Linked DNA regions of Homo sapiens. The protein of the gene in region 1 interacts with the protein of each later gene in a biochemical or structural test. Each region holds a gene or a part of one and is shown in the gene's direction. Other genes may lie near its edges.

Evidence for each region. The genes of interacting proteins can lie anywhere in the genome.
Region 2: the proteins of DFFB (region 1) and TOP2A form a complex in vitro, tested with the Homo sapiens proteins (one study listed by BioGRID).

Annotation. Positions count from the first base shown.
Region 1 is NC_000001.11:3,853,292-3,860,483, forward strand, and holds the start of DFFB (DNA fragmentation factor subunit beta), read left to right. Parts: upstream 1-4,184; 5' UTR 4,185-4,312; coding exon 4,313-4,426; intron 4,427-5,426; coding exon 5,427-5,553; coding exon of another isoform or gene 5,554-5,575; intron 5,576-7,128; exon of another isoform or gene 7,129-7,192. Other genes in the region: CEP104 (centrosomal protein of 104 kDa), read right to left, coding at 2,583-2,676. UniProt on the Homo sapiens protein: Nuclease that induces DNA fragmentation and chromatin condensation during apoptosis. Degrades naked DNA and induces apoptotic morphology.
Region 2 is NC_000017.11:40,400,891-40,407,914, reverse strand, and holds part of TOP2A (DNA topoisomerase 2-alpha), read left to right. Parts: intron 1-240; coding exon 241-366; intron 367-972; coding exon 973-1,083; intron 1,084-1,225; coding exon 1,226-1,331; intron 1,332-1,421; coding exon 1,422-1,531; intron 1,532-3,031; coding exon 3,032-3,124; intron 3,125-3,423; coding exon 3,424-3,538; intron 3,539-3,641; coding exon 3,642-3,763; intron 3,764-4,860; coding exon 4,861-5,009; intron 5,010-6,833; coding exon 6,834-7,024. UniProt on the Homo sapiens protein: Key decatenating enzyme that alters DNA topology by binding to two double-stranded DNA molecules, generating a double-stranded break in one of the strands, passing the intact strand through the broken strand, and religating the broken strand.

The DNA of each region.
Region 1 (7,192 bases):
CTCACAGGACATTGAGCCCAATTTGCTCAGGGACTCTGGGTTACTTTTCAGTTACTAAGCCAGTCAGATTCCTCCTAAGTAAGCCAATTTGGGTTAGGTCTAAATCATCGGGGGAAAAAAAAAAAGGCTCCTCACTAAACCAGGATAAAGAAGACTCCATCAGAAAGTTCTCTGGGATAAGATATACTATTAATTGAAATTCCCAATAGGAGGTAACATATAAACATACCCCCACATAAAACTGTACGTATTTTGACATGCTTGATGCATGATCTAGATCTTTCTTTTACTTTCATTGAGAATTCGAAGAGGACCACTTCAATATATTAATTATTGGCTGGCATTATTGCTAATGTTTCTTGGAATGTATGAACAAAAGCACTAAAATAGAATGATAAACCATCGAGATTCTAGTTATTTTTTGCACAAAGTTCACTGCAAGATGTTACTGTATATTAAACAAAAACAAAACTAAACCAACTCAGAAAATAATTTTTAAAAAGCCCCCCAGAACAGGATGAGGCTGGGTGTGGTGGTTCCTGCCTATAATCTCAGCACTTTGGGAGACCGAGGTGGAAGGATCACTTGAGCCCAGGAGTTCGAGACCAGCCTGGGTAAGAGAGTGAGACCCCGTTTCTAAAAAACCAAACAAAAAAAGAATTTTGAAAGGATGAGTGTGATTTAACCCACTGTTAGCTGCACGGCCCCACCTGCACTCTGGGCAACCTATGCCAGAAACGCACAGCCCATGGCTCCCACTCCTTCGTGACCTGGCACTTCTGGGTCGCATGGGCTCTGAGCCTAGAGGTACTTTTCCCTTGGCCACAGCATCTCTCTTCACCCACTCCCCATCCAACAGTGTGCCAGGTCTTATCAGGCCTGCCCTTCCTTCTGATCCCACTGTCTTTTCTAGACAGCAACCACCTGGTGTCCCCACCTGAAGCGCCTCCCTCAGACAAGTCCTAAGTTCCTATTGTGTGAACGTGCCTCAGGCCCAGCTCCAGTCATCTCCATCCATGTCCTAACTCCAGAGCTCTTGGTGGGCTCCCCATCTAGGGATCAATGCGCCAACTCTCCCCTGACCCTCACTTCTTGTCCTGAATTCTGAAGTCCAGCCAAACAATCAAAGCTCAAAGTTAATACCCTTCAGCTCTGAAGCCCTCCAATCCTTTCATCAGCTTTTTTTCCTTTTTTGAGACAAGAGTCTCAATCTATCACCCAGGCTGGAGTGCAGTGGCGTGATCTGGGCTCATTGTAACCTCTGTCTCCCTGGTTCATGTGATTCTTGTGGTTCAGCCTCTCAAGTAGCTGGGATTACAGGCATGCACCACCATGCCTGGCTAATTTTTTTTTTTTTTTTTTTTTGGTATTTTAGTAGAGACGGGGTTTTGCCATGTTGGCCAGGCTGGTCTCGAACTCCTGGCCAATCTGCCCGCCTTGGCCTCCCAAAGTGCTGGGATTACAGGCATAAGCCACCATGCCAGGCCCCTTTCATCATCTTTCAGGGCAGGGCTTGTCACTCCCTATTCCACCTTGAAAATACCTCTTGTGCCCAGGCTGTTGGGTTCCAGTCTCCAAATTTTTTTTTTTTTTTTTTTGAGAGAGGGTCTCACTCTGTCACCCAGGCTGGAGTGCAGTGGCGTGATCGCGGCTCACTGCGACCTCTGCCTCCTGGGTTCAAGTGATTCTCCCGCCTCAGCCTCCCAAGTAGCTAGTATTACAGGTGCGCACCACCACACCCAGCTAATTTTTGTATTTTTAGTAGAGATGGGGTTTCACCATGTTGGCCAGGCTGGTCTCGAACTCCTGACCTTAGGTGATCCACCCGCCTCAGCCTCCCAAAGTGTTGGGATTACAGGCGTGGCCAATAAGCCCAGCCCCGATTTTTTTTTTTTTTTTTTTTTTAATACAGGTTCTCGCTCTGTTGCCCAGGCTGTACTGCTGCAGTGGCGTGATCATAGCTCACTGTAACCATGAACTCTCGGGCTCAAATGATCCTCTTGTCTCAGCCTCCTGAGCAGCTAGGACTACAGGCACATGCCACCATGCACAGCTACTTTTTTTTTTTTTTTTTGTAGGGATGGGGTTTCACTGTGTTGTCTAGGCTGGTCTTGAACTCCTCCCACCTTAGTGTCCCAAAGTGTTGGGATTACAGGCGTGAGCCGCCGAGCCTGGCTAGTCTCTGAACCTAACCAACACTCTCTGTTACGGCTCGAAGACATAAATATAGGACCTTTTCAGTCAAACAGAAGGGTGTTTCCAGTATGCTATACTGCCCCCAACAAATCTAAAACAAAGTACTGGCATTTAAGAACCAGCTAAGAGAAATGCACAGGGACTGTGGAGGCAATGCTATTACCTCAGTCTGGTATTTGAAAAGGATTCCTTTTTTAGTCTACCCCCTCCCAAAGACCTTCCAGTTGTACCCTAGGGTCCCCTCTGTGTAAACCTTCAAGTGTTACATAAGATACTTGGAATGTCACTGAAGGATGCCACTTTTAGGCTCTATAAAAATCACCATTAACAATTTGGGAAGAAGCAAAGCTCTGTTGAACATCCAGTTATTGGCTGGTCTTCCTCACCAGAGGCATGAGGGATCCCTGTTGTCCCAGGGGCAGCCATCGACATCCCGACAAATGCCAGAGTACATCTCTCCCCAGGCAGCGATGACTCCATGGCGGTCTCATCCCTCACTACACTTTTCCTAGTGCTGGCATGGTAAAAGGCAATTAACTATAAATTAAACGGAAACTCAGTGTAGCAACTTCCATTTTGTTACAAGACTAGGAAACAAAACTTGTCTCTGATTTTCTTTTTAAGAAGACTTTTAAGTGTGACTGCGCGCGGTGGCTCATGCCTGTAATCCCAGCACTTCGGGAGGCCGAGGAGGGCGTATTACTTGAGGTCAGGAGTTCGAGACCAGCCTGGCCAACATGGTGAAACCCCGTCTCTACTAAAAATAAAAAAATTAGTCGGGCTACTCGGGAGGCTGAGGCAGGAGAATCGCTTGAACCCGGGAGGCGGAGGCTGCAGTGAGCTGAGATCGTGCCATTGCACTCCAGCCTGGGCGACAGAGCGAGACCGTCTCAAAGGCTTATGGGTTTCTGATCAAGTCATCTTAGCGACTGAAAGGGCTTCAGAGAAATCTGAACTTAAGTGCAAACAAAACAAAACAAACTCCAAAACAAAAAACAACCAACCATCAGACTTTAATCTCTATAGGGACAGAGCAATTTTCCTCAAACTTTTGCTCAGCAGAACACATCTGAAACTGGCCCCCTATGTGCTACGCATCCAGAAGAGGAAAAGCCGGATCTGAAAACAATATTCCACGCTAAATGGGCCGTCCCGGCCGGGGCAGGCGGTCCCAGCACCCGTGCTGAGCTCCCCGGCATACGGCACGACGGGGCCGCGCCGGCTCTTCGGCGACAGCAAGGCCGGCATCTAACTCCACACCGTCCGCGCTTGCACCGCGCACCCAGGCTTCGTACCCAGCTCCCAGGTGGGGACCGCGCCCCCGCGGCGCCCGCGCCCCGCGCCCCGCGCCCCGCTCCCCACTCCGGCCCTGGGCCGGCGCCGCAGCGGCCCGGAAGGTACCTGCTTAGAGGGAAGGGCCCCGACTGGCGCTGCCGCGGCCCCGGTGGAGAGGGCGGCTGGGTCGGAGCGGTGCCGCGGCCCGGGGAGGCGGCCAGGCGGCGCCTCAGCACCCGGACCCCAGGGGCGTGCGGGACCCGGCTCTCGTGGACTTCCTCGGCAGCCGCCGCTTCCTCAGACGGAACTCGGGGGGCGCCCCTTCCGCCGCCCCAGGCCGCCTTGCACCCCAAGCTGCTGCGGCAGTGACAGGGAAGAAGCAGACCCGGCCACCTCTGCCCATAGCCCCGGCCGCAGCCTCCACTCTCATGACAACCAAGCCCAGCCCTGGGCCAGGGCCTCTGCGCGTGCGCGACCCCGCCCCACCCCAGGCCGCGCCTGCGCACAAGGGGAGGGCTCCGCTACTCTGGCCCTCAGGGTTGTGTAGTTTCCGGGGCCACGGCACCTGGGCACACCAGGTGGCGTCGCGCCTTTGCTTTCCTGAGCCTTCTGAGTAAGGTAATGTGGTGTCCGTGGGGCGACGCCTGCGCACAAGACCGCGTCGGGCCTCACTTTTCCCAGGCCTTCTGGGTAATGTAGTTTCCGGGATCGGCACCCGGCCTGTGCCAGCTTGCAGAGCTCACCAGGTGCAGACCCCTGCGGCCAGGGCGAGGACGGATCTGAGCAGCTGGGCAGCAGGTGCCACCGCCTGTGGGACCCAGAGGGCTTGAGGACATCTGCAATGCTCCAGAAGCCCAAGAGCGTGAAGCTGCGGGCCCTGCGCAGCCCGAGGAAGTTCGGCGTGGCTGGCCGGAGCTGCCAGGAGGTGCTGCGCAAGGGCTGTCTCCGCTTCCAGGTGCCCGCTGGGCTAGGCGGGGACGGCCCGTCGGGGAGGCGTGTGGGGAGAATAGGAGGTGCCGCTTTTCCTCTTCCAAAACGGAGGGTGCAGGCGGCGCCCGGGGCGGGTAGTTTTCGTTCGCCTCAGCCGCTAGGACCCCGGGCCCCCGCAGCCTGGGGTTCCTGAGCGTGGCTTCAGAACGCAGGGGGGTTGGGGGACGACCTGGATCACCCCTTCCCTCTTCCCACCTCTCGGGCAGGACAGCCCTGCATCAGAGCTAGGAGACCCGGGTAGAGTGCCAGGTACTGGCACGCGGGGTCACGGCTGCTCTGCCTGTCCGGCCTCAGCTTCCCCTTGAGTAACATGAAAGGCTTGGCTAGGTGGGCTCTGCAGGCCCCTTCCAGCCCTCGCAGCTGGGGATTGCAATCGTCACCTTATTCTAGGTTGGTTTTCTTTTTAGACCAGTACTAGGGTTACCAGGTGTGCATTGCCGGGGTCGGTGCGGGTGGGGTGGGAGTAGCCATAAAATGCCTAAAACTGACCAGTGCAGAGTAACAGGGAACCGGACTCCAACAAATTAACAGTGCCACGTGCCGGTCACACTTGTGCACAGAGGCAACCAACCGTTCTCCTTCGTGTGCCAGCACCGCTCTGGCGGCTGTGTGCTGGGGATGGTGGTGTTCAGCTCCTGGCAGCAGGGAGGCGGCGCTGTCAAAGACAGGCTCTATTTGAAGCGCCCTCAGGAGCTCATTTAAAAAGGGTGAATCCTGCAGAGCCAGCAGTCACCCCCTGATGTATGTTTTTCCTGACTCTTCGTATTTTAGAACGGCCCGCAGTCAGGCGCCCTTGCTCCCGCTCCCTCATCCTTGCCTGGGCGTTGGAGCGACTGTGGCATACAGGCGGCAGCCTGAGCCTGCTTCTTTAAGCACAGCTCATTCCGGTCGTTTGTGAGGCCTGCAGATGCAAAGCCCTCGTCTTGAGACCCTTCCTCCTCCTGTTGCTTCTCCCGTCCCTGCAGCTCCCTGAGCGCGGTTCCCGGCTGTGCCTGTACGAGGATGGCACGGAGCTGACGGAAGATTACTTCCCCAGTGTTCCCGACAACGCCGAGCTGGTGCTGCTCACCTTGGGCCAGGCCTGGCAGGGCTGTGAGTGGCAAGGACTTTGGAGGTGGGCGGGAAGCTGGCACTCTCCGAGGTCCTGGGGGCTTAGCTCCAGGTGCCCATCAGGGTGGGGAAGAGTCCCCCTTACTGTGAACTCTCGGGTCTCAAGGAGGAAGCCCTCTGGAGGCAGAACTGGTCAGCGTCGCTTAGGTGGCAGAGTCCTCAGTCCTCTCGTTCATGAACCCAGCTGTTCAATTGGTCGTCTTTTTCTTCAAAAAATCTTTTAATTTTATTTGCGTTCATTTGAGGTGTCCTAGCAATTCCCAAGAGCAGAGGGAGGGCTTTGGGGTTGGGGCCTGCACAGTTTCATGGGGAAGGTGGAGCCAGGAAGAGATGCTGTTCTGTTCTGCTGGGCTGAGCACCCTTCTGGAAGGACGAGGTGGTGGTTCGTGGGATGCTCTCACATTGTTCTCGGTTGGTGTTTGCTAAGATGCTGTCCTCAGGGCTCAAGTTTGGGGGCAATTGCTTTGAGAGGTGGTTCTTTCGGGGCATCTGTATTGAAGCCTCAGGACACAAAGTCCTGCCTTTCAGAACCAGCCGAATGCCAAGGTCTGCGCTTGTTTGACTCCCGTAAAAGAGAGCTTTTGGCCACTGGGGCAGGAGATGCCATCATGTGCCTTTACCTGGGAGGGTCGGCCAGTGTTGTGCAAATGGGGTCAGGCTCCAGGAGATGCTTCTGGCAGCCCAGGAAGGACATGGGTGCTCTGAGGGATGGAGCTGTGGCTCCTTGGCCTAAGGGGCAAAAAGAGAGAAGTCGAAGAGTAACATCCATGTGGCCACCTCCCCGGCTACAGTGTTGGGGGCTCCACTGTCAGCATTGAGGGGTGACGCCTCTGGTGTGTGCTCCAAGGTTGCAAACCCCCTTTCTCCACTGGGCCTTGTGCTTTTAGAGGAGGCAGCTGGAAAATGTATCACTGTGATGCCCCCTGGGGTGGCCCCTGCAGGAGGTGGGGGCTGGGCAGGGGTATGCTCAGGGTATGCCTCACCTTTGGATGTTATCTTTCTTTCCCATTTCAGGGCATAGTTGAAAGACAGCAGAGCACGTTGCTCTCTCTCTGTCTCTCCCTGCATCTCGCAGTCTCTGTCTCTCTCCTCTGTCTCTGTCTCTGGCTCTCTCTGTCTGTCTCTGTCTCTCTCTCTCTCTGTCCTTCCTTTCTCTGGCGCTTTATCCTCCTCTCTTCGCTGAGACCGCTAGTCCTCCTCCTTGTTAGACTTAAAAAAAATTTTTTTTCTTTTCTTTTATGAAAACATTGAGATGGGGTCTCCCTCTGTTGCACAGGCTGGCCTCAAACTCCTGGGCTCAAGAAGTCCTCCTACTTTGGCTTCCCAAAGTGCTGGGATTACAGGCATGAGCCACTGTGCCTGGCCAAAATATTTTTGTTTTATTTATATTTTGAAACTTTGTTGCCCAGGCTGGAGTGCAGTGGCACAAACCTTGCTCACTGTAGCCTCGACCTCCGTGTTTCAAGTGATCCCGTTGCCTCAGCCTCCCAAGTATCTGGGACCACAGGCATGCATTACCACGTCTGGCTAATTGTTTTGTATTTTTTGTAGAGATAGGGTTTCGCCATGTTTCCCAGGATAGTCTCACACTCCTGGGCTCAAGCTGTCCTCCTGCCTTGGT
Region 2 (7,024 bases), on another chromosome or scaffold:
TTATGCTTATATTTAATTCCCTCATTAGGCATTTTAAAATATATTTTAGACAATTTGTGCTTATTTTGAGAAATTAGGTACATTGTAGCCTATTTTAACAGACCTTTCTGATGTAGTAAATTATAAGCTAATAGCTCAAAATACTGGAGCTCAAGAAAATCCAAGCAACATATACTGTTAAATTTCTTTGTTCTTTTCAAATTTATAAACGATGCTTTTTTTGGTATATGTCCATTTCAGATCATGGAAAATGCTGAGATTAACAATATCATCAAGATTGTGGGTCTTCAGTACAAGAAAAACTATGAAGATGAAGATTCATTGAAGACGCTTCGTTATGGGAAGATAATGATTATGACAGATCAGGTCAGATTTGTTATTAAATTTTTAGATTGTTCAACTAAATTAAGCATGTCTTAATTTAATTTCATTGTTTTTTGCCATGAAAATAAATTAGTTAAATAGGAGCTTTATTCATCATCTCTAATCAACATCTAATCAGATATGCTTATATCATATGTATGTTGCAAATACAGGTTAAGTGAGTCTGGATTTGAACAGACCTTTTTTGATTCCCATAGAAAATTTGACAAATTGCCAGTAGGTCAGTCATAATATTTTTTTATTTCTAAACAATTCTTTGTTTGTTTGAGATGGAGTTTCGCCCTTGTCGCCCAGGCTGGAGTGCAATGGTGCAATCTTGGCTCACTGCAACCTCCGCCTCATGGGTTCAAGCGATTCTCCTGCCTCAGCCTCCCGAGTAGCTGGGATTGCAGGCGGATGCCACCACACCCAACTAATTTTTGTATTTTTAGTGGAGACAGGGTTTCACCATGTTGGCCAGGCTGGTCTCGAACGCCTGACCTCAGGCGATCCGCCTGCCTCGGCCTCCCAAAGTTCTGGGATTACAGATGTTAGCTACCACGCCCAGCCTAACAGTTCTTTTGAACTTTGGCTTTCAAATCTTTCTAGGACCAAGATGGTTCCCACATCAAAGGCTTGCTGATTAATTTTATCCATCACAACTGGCCCTCTCTTCTGCGACATCGTTTTCTGGAGGAATTTATCACTCCCATTGTAAAGGTACGCTAATTTCTAAGTACCATCATGGATATTTTAAGACCCTACTCCTCAAACCTGGATATACATATAAGCCCCGTCACATGTAGTGGTATACAGGGGACCCCACAGTGTACAAAGCCACAGTCATTGTTTTTTATCACAGGTATCTAAAAACAAGCAAGAAATGGCATTTTACAGCCTTCCTGAATTTGAAGAGTGGAAGAGTTCTACTCCAAATCATAAAAAATGGAAAGTCAAATATTACAAAGGTTTGTAATGAAACCCATATAGAACTTCTCATTTTATTATACACCCTGTACAAGACTATATGAAGGAACTTGGTATTTTTGGTTTTATAGGTTTGGGCACCAGCACATCAAAGGAAGCTAAAGAATACTTTGCAGATATGAAAAGACATCGTATCCAGTTCAAATATTCTGGTCCTGAAGATGATGCTGCTATCAGCCTGGTAGGTTTGAGTTGTATTTTATATACATTCTAATTTTAGAAATCACTACTTTAGCCAGTTGAAACATTTACATTTTTGTATAAGACTCCGTATCAAAAAAAAAAGAATGTTTTATAGAATAGAATGTTTCCAGTAAGCATATCCCAGAGAAGGAATCAGATATTTTAGAAAATTTTGATTTTTGGCTGGGCTTGGTGGCTCATGCCTATAATTCTAGGACTTTGGGAGGCCAAGGCAGGTGGATCACCTGAGATCAAGAGTTGGAGACCAACCTGTCCAACATGGTGAAACCCCCTCTCTACTAAAAATACGAAAATTGGCCGAGCGTAGTGGCTCACGCCTGTAATCCCAGCACTTTGGGAGGCAGAGGCGAGCAGATCACAAGGTCAGGAGATCAAGACCATCCTGGCTAACAAGGTGAAACCCCATCTCTGCTAAAAATACAAAAAATTAGCCGGCCGTGGTGGCACGCAGCTATAGTCCCAGCTACTTGGGAAGCTGAGGCAGGAGAATCGCTTGAACCCGAGAGGCAGAGGTTGCAGTGAGCCGAGATCAGGCCACTGCTCTCCAGCCTGGGCAACAGAGTGAGACTCCATCTCAAAAAAAAAGGAAAAAGGCCAGGCGTGGTGGCTCACGCCTGTAATGCCAGTACTTTGGAAGGCTAAGTCGGGCAGATCACAACGTCATGAGATGGAGACCATCCTGGCTAACACGGTGAAACCCCGTCTCTACTAAAAATAAAAAAAAATAAAAAATAAAAAATTAGCCGGGCTTGGTGACACGCGCCTGTAATCCCAGCTACTCCGGAGGCTGAGGCAGGAGAATGGCGTGAACCCAGGAGGCGGAGCTTGCAGTGAGCTGAGATGGTGCCACTGCACTCCAGCCTGGGCGACAGAGCGAGACTCTGTCTCAAAAAAAAAAAAAAACAAAAAAGGTCGGGCGCAGTGGCTCACACCAGTAATCATAGCACTTTGGGAGGCCGAGGCGGGTGGATCACCTGAGCTCGGGAGTTCAAGACCAGCCTGACCAACATGGTGAAACCCCATCTCTACTAAAAATACAAAATATTAGCTGGGTGTGGTGGCACGTGCCTGTAATCCCAGCTACACGGGAGGCTGAGGCAGGAGAATCACTTGAACTTGGGAAGTGGAGGTTGTGGGAGCCGAAATCGTGCCATCACATTCCACAAGAGTGAAACTCCATTTCAAAAAAAAAAAAATACAAAAATTAGCTGGGCGTGGTGGCGGGCGCCTTTAATCCCAGGGGCTCAGGAGGCTGAGGCAGGAGAATCGCTTGAACCTAGGACGCAGAGGTTGCAGTGAGCCAAGATGACACCATTGCACTCCAGGCTGGGCAAGAGAACAGTAACTCCCGTCTCAAAAAAAAAAAAAAAGGAAAACAGTATTTTTGTTTTTCTGTTGTTCGTTCTTTGTAGAAGGATATTTTGGAACCTATTAGCCTATTAGTACCAGTGACATCTTTTCATCCTTTAATTTATAGGCCTTTAGCAAAAAACAGATAGATGATCGAAAGGAATGGTTAACTAATTTCATGGAGGATAGAAGACAACGAAAGTTACTTGGGCTTCCTGAGGTAAAAGTTTTAAATATATGCCACAAAATGGATTGTTAGACTGACCTTTTGGTATTGATACTATAGCAAATTAAACTTACTGAATAGTTATTTTAGTAAAAAATTTGATATGATAGAGTTGTGCAGCAGTTAAATTTGCTTTATCTTTAAAACATATAAAATATTTCTGTATTATTCAATATTTTTTAAAGACTTAAGAATTACAGAAATAATTCTTAGTTCTGAAAGGTTTCTGTTTGATTTTTGTGTTGAGCATTGTTTAGACCGGTAGACTCATGTAATACTATTTGGTCCTTCAGGATTACTTGTATGGACAAACTACCACATATCTGACATATAATGACTTCATCAACAAGGAACTTATCTTGTTCTCAAATTCTGATAACGAGAGATCTATCCCTTCTATGGTGGATGGTGAGTTCCAATTTGTTAGTCTGTTTTCATTGTAAGATGGAAATCAAATTCCAAAATTGGTTAAATTGAGGATACTTACGTTTGCTCTTATTTCATTTTAAAGGTTTGAAACCAGGTCAGAGAAAGGTTTTGTTTACTTGCTTCAAACGGAATGACAAGCGAGAAGTAAAGGTTGCCCAATTAGCTGGATCAGTGGCTGAAATGTCTTCTTATCATCATGGTGAGGTAAACACACAATCCATGTTTCCAGAAAGCATTATATCAGAAATCCCTGCAGAGTCATTCTCAAAACAGATTTGGTGAAAGTATAAGCTCATATATTCATAGTAAAGAACAAGTTGGTAAAACCTGTGAAAGAATAAAACTGCTTGCCCTTTGATTTCTGAAAGTAATATTCCTGCAGGGATATTCATAAGTCTGCAAAGGTCTACATTAAAAAATGCTTAGTATGTTTATTATAACTTTGTGATGTCAAAATTTAGACCTCCACTGATTTGAAAATTGTTATAATAAATTGTGACACATGTATGCATGGAATCAGTGCTGTAACTTCAGTAAAACTGTGTGCACTGACACTGAGGAATATCCAGGGTCTATTCTCAGGTGAGGAAAAAAAGAGACAGAACAATAACTAAAAATGTCTACAAGGATATGTTCCAAATTGTTCACTTTAGTTACCCCTGAGAACTGGAAAGGGCAACTTTCACTTTTTATATGTGTCTGAATTGTTTGACTTTACACCAATGTTTTGTGATTACTTTTTGCATTAATTATGTAAAACAGTTTTAAAGAACTAGATTGCCTACAGGTTTCTAGAATTTTAAATATAATGGTTGTCTTGTTGCTTTCAATCAAAATATAGTAGGGATACAATAAATTTTCACCCAACGAACATTTGTTGAATGCCTACCATGTACCAGGTATACAAAAATAAATAAAAATATGTTCCTTATCCCCAAGATATAATAACAATTTAGCCAGAGGGCCAATACACACACAGCTATAGAATAAAGTGATACATGCTAGAATAGAAATGAACACAGCATTGTAACACAAAGGAGGAAATATTTCATTTTGCTGAGGATAAGGAGAAGAACTATGCCTTCAAAGTTGAGTGGGATTTAATAGAAATTGTTGGACGGCAGCCCTAAACTTGGAGCCAGAAGTTGTAGGTTCAAGTACTATTTCTGCCATCTATTAATCTGAGGAAAGTCACTAAACAACTAGACCTCACAAAATGTTACAGGATTATAGTGAGGTTAAGTCATAATGTATTTGTATTAGTAAAAGCCTCAGCTTAATGAATCTTTTTTTCCCCACAGATGTCACTAATGATGACCATTATCAATTTGGCTCAGAATTTTGTGGGTAGCAATAATCTAAACCTCTTGCAGCCCATTGGTCAGTTTGGTACCAGGCTACATGGTGGCAAGGATTCTGCTAGTCCACGATACATCTTTACAATGCTCAGGTAGGTATGCTTTCACTTTCTAGTGACTTGCCATTTCCAGTTTTGAAACAATGTGAGATTTAGTTCACCAAAAATACAAAAACTCAGTTAATCAGAAGATACTGGCATCTAGTGGCAGAGGCCAGGGGTGAGGCTTATACAGGAAAGCCCCCCCATAACAATTATCCAGTGCAACATGTCAATTATGCTAAGGTTGAGAAATCCTGATGTAGAGCTTGGGACTGAGTAAAGGAGACTTTGATTCTTCCTAAATATCACAATTGAAATTTTACTCCTTTACAAGCCTATGGAAAGTATATTATGAATGGTCAATTTTCAGCTGTCATCCCAGTCACCCTTTCAGTGGCATTCAAACAGTTACTAATTGCTCCATCCTTCTTGAAACTCTTTATTTGGCCTCTATGACTGTAGACTCTTCTGGTTCTCTTCTACCTTATTAGCTTTCTCTGCTGGGTCCTTCTCACCTTCCCAACCTCTAAATACTGGCCCATTCCAGGGCTCCTTCATCAGATCTCTTTCCAATGCCTACACTCAATTCCCAAATGATCTCCCATTCATCCGTTCTATACCTTTAAATCTCCAGTCTTGGTCTCTCCCCTGAACTCCCAACTTTTATGTCTGACTGCCCTCTTAACATTTCCCACTTGGATATCTAGTTAAGTATCTCAAACATAAGTCTAAAACCAAATCCTTAGTTTTCCTGTCTCAGTAAATGGAATGCCATGCCATCCTTCTAATTGCTCAGGCTAAAAACCTTGTCACCCTTGACTCCTTTGCTTGATACTTAACATCCAGTTCCTCAGCCAATCCTATAGGATCTGCATTGGAAAAATACTAAGCCACCCCCATCTCATCTAAACTATTGTAACATATCATCTTTTCTTAAAGCAGCCAATTATTTTTTAAAAAATAAGTCACTCTGATTCAGAACCTTCAACTGCTCAGAGTAAAATCTAAAGACCTATTTTAGCTAACCAGACATTATGTGATCCGTGTCCCCACCTTCCATGTCTTTTGATTCCTTCTCATACCATCTCCTCTCCAGCCACACTGTCCTTGGCCTATACTCAAATATACCGAGCACATTTCCTCTTCAGGGCCTTTTACTTACTGGTTCCTTTGCCTGCAACACTCTTTCTCTAGATATCCACATGGTTCAGTCCCTCAGTTTGTTTTTTGTTGTTTTTTTTTCTTTTGAGATGGAGTTTTGCTCTTTTTGCCCAGGCTGGAGTGCAGTGGCGCAATTTCGGCTCATTGCAACCTCTGCCTCCTGGGTTCAAGTGATTCTCCTGCCTCAGCCTCCCGTGTTGCTGGGATTACAGGTACACGCCACCATGCTCAGCTAATTTTATATTTTTAGTAGAGATGAGGTTTCACCATGTTGGCCAGGTTGGTCTTGAACTCCTGACCTCAGGTGATCTGCCTCCCTCAGCCTCCCAAAGTGCTGGGATTACAGGCGCGAGTTACTGCACCTGGCGCCCTCAGTGTCTTTTCTCTGCTCAAATGTTTTCCTATCAGAAACGGCTTAACTTTCCTTAGCACCTCTTCAGTCACTTTCCCACTTTTTCTTCTCTTGTTTATCCCACCACCTAACAAAATATGTGTTAATTGCAAACTTCTACTGGACTGTGAGCTCCTTGAGGATTGAGACTTTATGTCCATGTGCGTGACACATAGCAAGTGCTCAATAAATATTGTTAAATGTATATTAGTCAGCAAGTAAAACCAAGATAATTTTCATGTATAATACATGTCCTTTCCATAAAAGTTAAGTGTGAAATTCAGTATTTTTGTAAAATAACATTCTTTGTTTCTTTTCTTTAGCTCTTTGGCTCGATTGTTATTTCCACCAAAAGATGATCACACGTTGAAGTTTTTATATGATGACAACCAGCGTGTTGAGCCTGAATGGTACATTCCTATTATTCCCATGGTGCTGATAAATGGTGCTGAAGGAATCGGTACTGGGTGGTCCTGCAAAATCCCCAACTTTGATGTGCGTGAAATTGTAAATA